2 separate regions of the Homo sapiens genome follow, and region 1 is linked to region 2. Evidence: fine-mapped QTL for protein levels in blood plasma. A gene starts in region 2. The other region holds a variant in brackets. All regions are shown on one strand. Distances are from middle to middle. Region 1 overlaps MAG (myelin associated glycoprotein). Region 2 holds the start of CD22 (CD22 molecule).

Region 1 (5,369 bases), 19 kb before region 2:
GGGTCTCTTGCCTGTGTGTAAGTGGGTTTTGGTGAGAACTCACTGAGAACCAGTGCTCAGTCTAGAGCAAGCCAAGGAGGGTGCTGGACTCTCAGGCCAAGAAAGAGAACACAGTTTAAAAAGCAGCATTCTGTGCTGTAATACAATTGCGTATTTTGGTACAAAAATTAGCCAGGCATGGTGGCACGCACGTGTAGTCCCAGCTACTCAAGAGGCTGAGGCAGGACAATCACTTGAACCTGGGAGGCAGAGGTTGCAGTGAGCAGAGATCGTGCCACTGCACTCCAGCCTGGGCGACAGAGAGACTCCGTCTCAAAAATCATAGTAATAACAATAATAATAATAATAATTTCCTGTTTTGGAAAATGAAAGAAAAAACCTACCAGTACTATTTTTGTAATCCAGTGGCAGCAAAGCAAAGCTCAACCAAGTGACTTTGGGTGGAGGGTGGTGTTTGGTGCTAGTGGCAGGAGGGAATCTCATGGGTGAGGAAGGGCCGGGGTTCAAGGCGGCTTTAGGGGAGGAAGTGGGGGGCATCTGCAGCGCAGACTGAAAGGAAGGAGCACAGCCTGGAAGCCAGAAAGGAGGGGATAGTCTAAGCCTGTGTGAGCCCCAAGGGTCTGGGGAGGCCGGGGGCTGGGAGAGTTCCATGGTTCCTCCCTTCTACGTGTGGGGCCCAGAGTGGAGAAGGAGCAAGCCCCTGTCTTGATGGAAACAGGAGGCCCCTTATGTAAGTGTGTGATGCAGGGAGGGTGAGTGCTGGGGAGGAGAACTGAGTGAGGCAGGGAGTGAATGATACGTGGAGCGAGGTGCAGCTTCCCTGGGTGGTCAGAGAAGGAGACGCCGCATGGGTAGAGGCCAGTTTGGAGCGAGGGAGGGCGTTCCACAGGCAACTGATGGAAGTGTTCCAAGTTGAGGGAGAAACGTACAGACCCTGGAGTGGGAGAAAGCTCCACGATTTTCAGACACAGCAAGGAACCGGTGTGGCTGGAAAGGACTAAGCCAGGGGGAGAGAAGGAGAGAGTGTGTGGTCAGGCAGGGCCTGAGGGGCCTTGTAGATGAAAGACTTTGTATTTTGGGCTGGGCACAGTGGCTTGCGCCTTATAATCCCAGCACTTTGGGAGGCCAAGGCAGGAGGATTGCTTGAGCTCAGGAGTTCAAGACCAGCATGGGGAACATAGCAAGACCCTGTCTCTACAAAAACAAACAAAAACCCTCCAGTAACTATCATGAGTATGACAGATTTACCGTCCTCTGCAATTCTGAACATAAAGCTTTAAAATCAAAAGGCTTTTTGCAAATTTGGCACCACCCTGATTTGACAGCAAAATCTCGCCTAAAGAACACAAGGCTGTTTGTAATCTATACTGATTTCATTTAGGGTGAATATTCGTACTTTTTGCTGTATACATTACATTGAACTATGTGAAATTTTTTCTGCATGTCAAAAATGGTCAAATGTGGCTGGGCGCAGTGGCTTATGCCTGTAATCCCAGCACTTTGGGAGGCTGAGGCGGGAGGATCACTAGAGGCCAAGAGTGCAAATGAGCTATAGTACTGCCACTGCACTTCAGCCTGGGCGACAGGGCCAGACCCTGTCTCTAAACGATAAAAAATAAAGGATTTGTATTTTAGGTGAACCACGGAGCAACAGAAGGAGGGTTTTGAGCAGAGAGTGCCATGATCTGATTTATGTATTACAAGGTGAATGAGGTTAGAGAGAGTGTAAGAGCCAGGGCCCAGGAGAAACGGCCCGTCCCTGTGACATAGTGCTCTGTCCAGGCTGAAGCTGAGGCTAGAGTCGCCTCAAAAGTGGCACCAGAAGAATTGCCCCAAGAGAGCACCCCAAACCACCCCGAAATGAGGCCACTTGGGATTCCAAAGAGAGAGGCACTAAACCACCAGGTGATCATCAGTCCAAAGCATTTGGGAGGGGAACTTGCACAGTGCTACGGCGAGAGAAAGGGAGGGTCTACCCAGACACGTCCGTGAGGGTCAGGGTATGGGTTTACATGAGGGTTTAAGGAATTTGGCCCAGGGCTGGGGCTGGTTTCTTTCATTCTTTCATTTTTGTTGTTGTTGTTGTTTGGGGTTTTTTTGAGACAGCGTCTCATTCTGTAACCTCTCGTACTCCTGACCTCAAGTGATCCACTCACTCTTCGGCCTCGCAAAGTGCTAGGATTACAGCAGTGAGCCACCATGCCCGGCCTCTTTCAGTGTTTTGAGCAACAACCTAAACACCTTTATCAGTGCCTGGGAATGTTCAAGGCCCCAGGCGTGGGTTAGTGAAGCTTGCAGTGAAAACAGGCAGCCGGCGGGGTCGTAGTGAGGTCAAGGCGCTCTCAGTCAGGACAGAGAAAAAAGGAGGGGAAATTGGAGGGCCCTACA[G/T]GAAGCTACCGCCCCCATCCTTGGCCACACTGGCCTTGCCTTGAGCCAAGGAGTCTCCGGGGCCGGGCCTCGCGTTGGCTCCGGGCCACCCTCAGACCTGATTTTGCCCCTGCAGTCGCCCCTGTGCTCCTCCTGGAGTCCCACTGCGCGGCAGCCCGAGACACGGTGCAGTGCCTGTGCGTGGTGAAGTCCAACCCGGAGCCGTCCGTGGCCTTTGAGCTGCCATCGCGCAATGTGACCGTGAACGAGAGCGAGCGGGAGTTCGTGTACTCGGAGCGCAGCGGCCTCGTGCTCACCAGCATCCTCACGCTGCGGGGGCAGGCCCAGGCCCCGCCCCGCGTCATCTGCACCGCGAGGAACCTCTATGGCGCCAAGAGCCTGGAGCTGCCCTTCCAGGGAGCCCGTGAGTGGCGTGGACTTGGGGTGGGAGCCACAGGAGGGAGCGGGCACGTCTTAGATCCAAGCTCCCAAGGCTGACCAACAGCCACAGAGCATGGGCTATGCAGATTGACAGAAAGGTCAAATTCTCCCTTTCCGGTTGGAGAGGAGAAGCCGCCCTGAGTTTGCCCCGAGTTTGCTAGGACCTTTGAGGCATGAGCCCCTCCCCAGGGCCCTCTAGCATGAAAGGGATTGCCCTGGCACGAGGAGGCTCCGTGCCAATCAGTCAGTGCAAGGATGCCCCGGCTGTGTGACTACATTGACTGTCATCCCAGCATGTCTCCAAAGTTCTCAGGTGTCGTCACCACCACCCATAGCCCTAAGGGCGCCTGGGTCTTTTCTGTCCTCAGATCGACTGATGTGGGCCAAGATCGGGCCTGTGGGCGCCGTGGTCGCCTTTGCCATCCTGATTGCCATCGTCTGCTACATTACCCAGACACGCAGGAAGTGAGTGCCAGCTGGGGCTGATCTGGGGATGGGAGTCTCCAAAAAGGGGACCTGGTGGGAGATGGAGGCCCAGAGTGGGTGGGGGAAGGCAGCACCATAAGTGTAGAGAAGGCAGATTCTGTTCTGGGAATGTTCAGCTGGACAGAGGAGAGAGGGTTCCTGTTAATTCCAGCCCCTGCTGGTCAGGGGCACACCAGGGCCTGGGCTGAGCCCTTTACACACATCATTTGAGACCTGTTTGCCCACATTCTATTTTGACAGCCTCCCTATCTCTAGGAACTCTCCCCTACACACTCCAGTGTGGTGGGGAAAGCCCAGGTACCCCACTGCAGCCACAGCAGCAGGTCCACTTGACGCCAGAAGCCCCAAAGATTACACACATCTGGGGCAAAAAAAAAATAGGCCTTGGCCGGGCGCGTTGACTCACGCCTGTTATCCCGCACTTTAGGAGGCCAAGGAGGAAGGATTGCTTGAGGCCAGGAATCTGACACCAGCCTGGGCAACATAGCAAGACCACATCTCTAAAAAAAATTTTTTTTTAATTAGCCAGGCATGGTGGCACACACTGTAGTCCCAGCTACTTGGGAGGCTGAGGTGGAACGATTCTTGAGCTCAGGAATTAGAGGCCAGCCTGGGCAACATAGGGAGACCCCATCTACAAAAAAACAAAAAAATTAGCTACTAGTGGCACGTGCCTGTTGTCCCAGCTACTCGGGAGGCTGAGGAGGGAAGATCGCTTGAGCCTGGGAGGTTGAGGCTGTAGTGAGCTATGATTTCACCACTGTACTCCAGCCTAGGTGACAAAGAGAGACCCTGTCTCTAAAAACAAACAAACAGACAGACAGACAGACAGAAAGCCTCTCCAGCCCCAAACCATACCCACCTGGCCCAACTCAGCTGCAGCCGTGTTTCTTTCTTGTGGCACACACACATCAGCTGTCCTGAGAAATAAATTAACCCCTCTGCTCCACATCCTGGTGGCAAGAGGGGCAGAAAGACCCAGAGCCTATGAGGGGAACCTGGAGAATCCAGGTGGGGGTCCTGAAAAACGGCAGAGCTCAGGGGCCAGGTGGCTCGTCCCCAGCCGGGCAGGGGCCACAGAGGTGGGAAGGATGGGCTGTGTGGGTAGGAGAGGCTGGTGGTTCTGAAAGGGCTGCTTGCCACATCTTAGAGATGGGTGGGAGAACTCTGAGGTCCCCTGAGCCAAACTCCTAAAACACGTGGGGGTGCAGAAAGGGAGGGCAGAGAGAGGTCTGACGAGTCCTGCCCTGCAGAAAGAACGTGACAGAGAGCCCCAGCTTCTCGGCAGGGGACAACCCTCCCGTCCTGTTCAGCAGCGACTTCCGCATCTCTGGGGCACCAGAGAAGTACGAGGTAAGGACCAGGCTCCAGGCTGGCCTGGGAACCTGGATGCCAGGGACACTGAAGGCCTGGGAAAGGCCTGTGAGGCCAAGGGGCAGGGGAGTGGGAGCGGCCTCTCACAGGAGGAGAGGAAGGACATTCCAGGGCTGGGTTGGACCTGGAGGCTGGGGAGGAGGTGCCCAGGCCGAAGCTGTGTAGGGGGCGATGGGACGTGGGGCCTAAGGGCCCCCTCCCCTCCCTGCCTGTGTCTGTGACTGCATTTCCTTCTCCAATAGTCCAAAGAGGTTTCTACCCTGGAATCTCACTGAGTGCCCCAGGAGGTAGGTTCCGGGGGCCTCAGTGTGCCCTCCTCTGGGCCCTCCTTGGGCCCTGGGGTTGGCGTGCATGTCCGTGTGTCCCTGTCAGGCGTCAAGGTGGTCTCTGGTGATGTCCGGGCCTGCCCGGCAGTGCTGGCCTTGTCTAGTCTGTCCTGTTGCAGCTCCCTTCTGTCTGTGGCCACCGTCCTGTGTGTCCAAATTCCTGTGGCTAGGGGGTGGAGGGAGGGGTGGGAAGCGTGGGGGGAACCCACATGTCACCTGCAGGACCTCCCAGATTGAGGGCGGACCCATGCAGGACCCATGGGGGGGCACGTACCAAACCAGGTATTTCCAGGAATTTGGAAAGATGGGGTCCTGACTAGGTGGTTTTCACCCAAAAAGGTATTAGGGGTTACATTGTGTGCCCTCAAAACTCCT
Region 2 (5,369 bases):
AACACTTTTATGATGGCTGCTCCAAAATCTTTGTCAGATAATTCTAACATCTGTGTCGTCTTGATGTTTGTGTCTGTTAATTATCTTTTGTTATTCAGTTTGAGAATGCCTGATTCCTAGTATGACAAGTGATTTGCCATTGAAGTCAGGATATTCTGGGCACTGTGTTATAAGATTCTGGATCTTCTTTAAATATTTTGTTTTAGTGGGCTTCCCTTTATACTGCTCCAGCGAAATAAAGTAGGGCACTGCCTGATTGCTTCCAGACAGGGATAAAAGTCCAGGTTCTCCATCCAGCCTTTCCTGAACCTGGGGGGTTGGGAGAGATGAGGCCTCCATGTTATTGTTTGGTAAGGGTAGAAGTTCAGGTTCCCCACTAGGAATCCATGACAACTCCCTGGCTGGGAGTGGGAGGGATGCTTCATTACTGCTCCCTATGTGGCTTTCACTGACACTGTGTGTGGCAGAGAGAGGGGGGTGCTTGTTACCACTGAGTGGTGGCGAAAGTCCCAACTCTCCACCAGGCCCCCTTTGACACTACTCCAATGGGGCCGGGTGGAATGCCTCATTTCTGCATTGGGGTGGCAGTGGATGTCCAGGCTGCCCACATGGTTTCCACCAACACCACATCGGGGGAGGGTGATCCCAGTGGGGAGGAATGTCCCAGCTCCAACTCTAGCATCACTCTGGCTGAGTATGGGAGTGGCCTAGGGTTCTTTGTTACAGCCTGGTGAAGGTGAATGTCTAGGTTTTCCATCCGGCCTTTGCTGACAAGGGTGATGATGGAACTTGGATGGAGCGGAGCAGGTATGGACTAAAAGAGCTCTGTCTTTCTAGGATGCCCCTTTCCTCGTTCTTTGGCTAGAAAAGCATAGTTTTGCTAGAACTTGTTCTGTTGGGACTTTTTCTTGTTTGTGCCCCTTGGCATTTTCAGTTGTTGGCTTCTCCAGTATTCAGCCTGAGATATATGAGGCAAAGAGAAATCCCAGGGAATTCACCACCATTCCTTAAGTCCCGAGGTTCCTAACCAGTCTGCTTCTCTCCATCTTTCAGTCTTCTTATGCTTGTCTTGTCACGTTCAAGGTTTTCAGTTATACTTGGCAGAATAAATAAATACATCTACTCCATCTTTCCAGAACATCACTGCTTTTTGTTCATTTTATTTATTTATTATTTACTGAGACAAGGTCTTACTTTGTTGCCTGGGCTGGAGTGCAGTGGTGCTATCATGGCTGACTGAAGCCTTGAACTCCCAGGCTCAAGCGATCCTCCTGCCTCAGCCTCCCAAGTAGTTTGGACCACAGGCATGGGCCACCATGCCCAGCTACTTTTCATTTTTTGCTTTTGTTGACTAGCCCCACAGAGTTTTGCTGTGTTGTTCAGGTTGGTCTCAAACTTCTGGCCTTAAGCAATCCTCTTGCCTTGCTCTCCCAAAGCGTATTACAGGCATAAGTCACCACACCCAGCCCTATCGGTGCTTTTGGAAGAAGGTGTTCTTCCCTCTCTCTGTTTCCCTCCCTATGGCCAGCTGCCCATAGAGGGCAGTGGTGCTGGAGTGAAGACCTCTCAGCGCATCCCTCTTCATCTGTAGGATGTGCATGGCTTCCAATGCTGTCTGTTCTGCTCCTGAGACACTCGCTGGCTACAGGATTATAAAGGTGATGAGGTTTCAGCCTAAAGACTCTCCATTCAATAACACTTCCTACAAGATATCTTTTTTGTTTTTTTGAGACAGGATCTGGCTCTGTCACCCAGGCTGGAGTGCCACAGCGCGATCTGCTCACTGCAACCTCAGCCTCTCGGGCTTAAGTGATTCTCCTGCCTTAGCCTCCTGAGTAGCTGGGACCACAGGCGCCCGCCACCACACCCAGCTAATTTTTGGATTTTTTTTTTTTTTTTTTTTAGTAGAGATGGGGTTTTACCATGTTGCCCAAGCTGGTCTTGAACTCCTGAGCTCAGGCAATCCACCCGCCTTGGCCACCCAAAGCGCTAGGATTACAGGCATGAGCCACCATGCCCAGTCCTACAAGATATCTTTTCTTTTTCTTTCTTTCTTTCTTTCTTTCTTTTTTTTTTTTTGAGACAGAGTCTCACTCTGTCACCCAGGCTGGACTGCAGTGGTGTGATCTCTTCTCACTGCAGCCTCCGCCTCCTGGGCTCAAGTGATTCTCCTGCCTCAGCCCCCTGAGTAGCTGGGACTACAGGCGCCTGCCAAAACACTTAGCTAATTTTTTGTATTTTTAGTAGAGACGGAATTTCACCATGTTCGCCAGGCTGGTCTCGAATTCCTGACCTCAAGTGATCCACCCGCCTCAGCCTCCCAAAGTGTTGGGATTCCAGGCATGAGCCACCGCACCCGGCCGAGATATCTTTTTCCTCCTCAATATCTATGTGCTCCTCCCTCAACCCTTGGGGGCTTCAGTGTAGGTGGTCAGATTCCCCACCATTTATGCCTATGATGAAAAGAGTGGAAATGGTAATAACTGGATGGTGTCACTAAACTACAAATACTTTCAGGTAGGCCTGTGCCTTTTTCAGCGGGCTGCAGTTCTCCTGCTTGGCTTGAGTCATTCGCATTTCCTGAGAGCTGGGTAGAGGGGGAGTTGTGGAGGAGCCCATTCTGAAACTGATCTGATATTGCAAACCCATACACGGAAAGGAAGAACTGCCCATACGTATTCGAGTCTTCCAATCTGACTCCGAGCCCGCATCCCCCTCAATCGTCTCTTTTCCCCACTCCCCAGATCACGGTGCTGCTTGGTCCCCCTCAGAGCCATAGAGAAGCAGGGGGTGTGGCCATGGAGGGGAAACCTCTGTCACCAGAGACTTTACTGTACTTCTCCTTTTGCTCTCAGATGCTGCCAGGGTCCCTGAAGAGGGAAGACACGCGGAAACAGGTAAAAATCATTTTGCTTTTATTTTGCATTCAACAAGCAAGTTATTACGGAACAGCAGTTATGGGCCAGGCATACCTCCCAGAGCTGGGAACACAGTGGGGACCTCCCTGGCTCTCTCTTACCGGTGTTACAACAGGTTGTAGACAGACCCCTGTCTTGAGCATCCTCCTTGCCAGGCCTGCTGAGTCTTCTGAGAGTAGGGTAGGTTATTGGATGCCCAGGAGGGAAGAAGGAGCCAGGGAGGTCAGCCCCAAGGTTCTGCAAGGCCCTCAACAGGCCTGGACTGAGGAGGTCTGGACAGCATGGCCCTGTCCTGAGCCTCTGTGCATAATAACTGCTGTCCCTAACCTCCACCCCACCCTCAGCCTTCCAATTCCCGGGCCTGGGGCCCTACTCCTGTGCTCCAGAGACTCCTGGAGCTCCTTGAGGCAGCACACAGTCCTGCTCTGGAGGCGCCCATCTCCCACTCATGCTGGGATGCTCCAGCCCGTCCCAGAGCAGGTTGTGGCTGGAGGGTGCTGGCAGAGGAGGGACAATGGCCCGGCTCCTGGAGGCAAGTGTTGGCTGCAGGGAACGGAGTCTAGTCCTTGCCACAGCCCTTGTTACCCCTTAGGTAACCTTAAGGGGATTTCAAAGAACTCTGGCTCTGCAACCCTGCTAAGTTTTTTATGGAACATGTAAAATAGATCCCATGGCCAAAGAAGTATGGACAATGTATTATACTATACTCTAATCCCCATGTCTAGAGATTAATGGTGTAGATAGAGTTTACTGAAAGGTTTTTAAAGTCCTGCAGTAAAGAATCTTACTTAAGCCAGGTGCGGTGGCTCACGCCTGTCATCTCAGCACTTTGGGAGGCCAAGTTGGGGGGATCACCTGAGGTCAGGAGTTTGAAACCAGCCTGGCCAACATGGTGAAACCCCATCTCTACTAAAACAAACAAACAAACAAACAAATCAGACGGGTGTGGTGGCACATGCCTATAGTCCCAGCTACTCAGGAGGCTGAGGCAGGAGAATCACTTGAACCCTGGAGGCAGAGGATGCAGTGAACTGAGATCACACCACTGCACTTCAGCCTGGGCGACAGAAGAATGAGACTCTGTCTCAAAAGAAAAAAAAAGAATCTTACTTAACTCTTTTACCCTGCCTTTCTCAAGTGTATGTGACCTTGAAGATGTTTTTTGCATGTGACATGATGAGTACCTGCGGGGCTGATGTCAGCTCTGCCTGGGGAATCTGCCTCAGCTTCAGACCCTGCACCCCAAATTCATGCTTAGCCCAGGCCAGACCCCCTTCCTGCTGTCGGCAAGCAGCTTAGCTTTCCGCACACCCATGAACAGATACCCAGCAGCCTTTGGCATGAGCCATGTGGCCCGAGGAGATAAACAGACAGAGAGAGGAACATTGATGCGTGTGAAATGTTGGCAGGTGAGTGGGAGGGGCTTGGGTTGGTGCTGAGACCGGAGACACACTCTGCTGTCACATCCTTCAGGGTCCCCGGGGGCCAGCACGGAGGGCCATGATCATGTAAATTGGGACTTAAATTTAACTCTATGTAAATATAACTCTATGCAGAGGTCAGGGATGGTAGAGGACAAGCTCACTGCAGAGAAAGAAAGAAAGATGGGCAACAGTTGCAGAACCTAACCCACAGATAGGTTTTGTTTGACCAGCTCTGTACATTTTTAGTTTATTTTTTATCTTTTTGAGACAGGGTCTTGCCCTGTCGCCCAGGCTGGAGTGCAGTTGCATGATCTCGGCTCATTCCAACTTCTACTTCCCGGGTTCAAGCAATTCTCCTGCCTCAGCCTCATGAGTATCTGGGATTACAGGTGTACGCCACCACGCCTGGCTAATTTTTTGCATTTTGAGTAAAGATGGGGTTTTGCCATGTTGGCCAGGCTGGTCTTGAACTCCTGACCTCAAGTGATCTGCCTGCCTTGGCATCCCAAAGTATTGGGATTACAGGTGTGAGCCACTGCGCCTGGCTCACCCATACTTTGTTACTGGTTTTAGAATTCCTTTTTACCTGGTCTTTCAAACCAAGTTTTGACCATGTCTGTCCCTGAGTATAATCCTTGATGAGTAGCACCAGAGAGAGCTCCACGTTACCCGGGGCCTGGCATTCAAAGCACTCAGTGGTCTGGTGCCACTCAAAGCCTGTGAGCCAGGCAGGAAGTTTATAAAATTAGAGATGGATGAATGGATGGATGGGAAAAAGCAAGCAAGGGAGGAAGGAAGGAAGAAAGGAAGGAGTTCTGGGAAGAGAGAGAGGCTGCCCCCGCAGGGCTCTCAGTTTGAAGGAGAGGTGCAGCACACTCAGAAAAAACTCCCGGCCAGGAGTGGTGGCTCACACCTGTAGTGCCAGCACTTTGGGAGGCCAAGGCTGGCAGATCACCTGAGATCAGGAGTTCAAGACCAGCCAGGCCAACATGGTGAAACCCCATCTCTACTGAAAATACAAAAATCA

Evidence for each region. PIP is the posterior inclusion probability: the model's chance that the variant is causal. The UK Biobank Pharma Proteomics Project read protein levels with antibody pairs (Olink). The fine-mapping took linkage between variants from a reference panel, not from the people measured, so its PIPs are less certain.
Region 1: its variant is fine-mapped to the plasma level of the CD22 protein (UK Biobank, PIP above 0.99).

What each region holds. Positions count from the first base shown.
Region 1 is chr19:35,307,371-35,312,739 of GRCh38, forward strand. It overlaps MAG (myelin associated glycoprotein), which reads left to right. Exons shown (of 11, transcript NM_002361.4): 8 at 2,504-2,791; 9 at 3,177-3,273; 10 at 4,548-4,647. Among named protein-coding and RNA genes, the nearest start is that of MAG, 18 kb to the left of the region's middle. RefSeq lists enhancers at 4,076-4,577, 4,578-5,077. The variant G/T (reference allele first, on the strand shown) is at 2,389.
Region 2 is chr19:35,326,334-35,331,702 of GRCh38, forward strand. CD22 (CD22 molecule) reads left to right here and starts at 2,854. Exons shown (of 14, transcript NM_001771.4): 1 at 2,854-2,897. RefSeq lists enhancers at 3,431-3,480, 3,551-3,600, 4,731-4,780.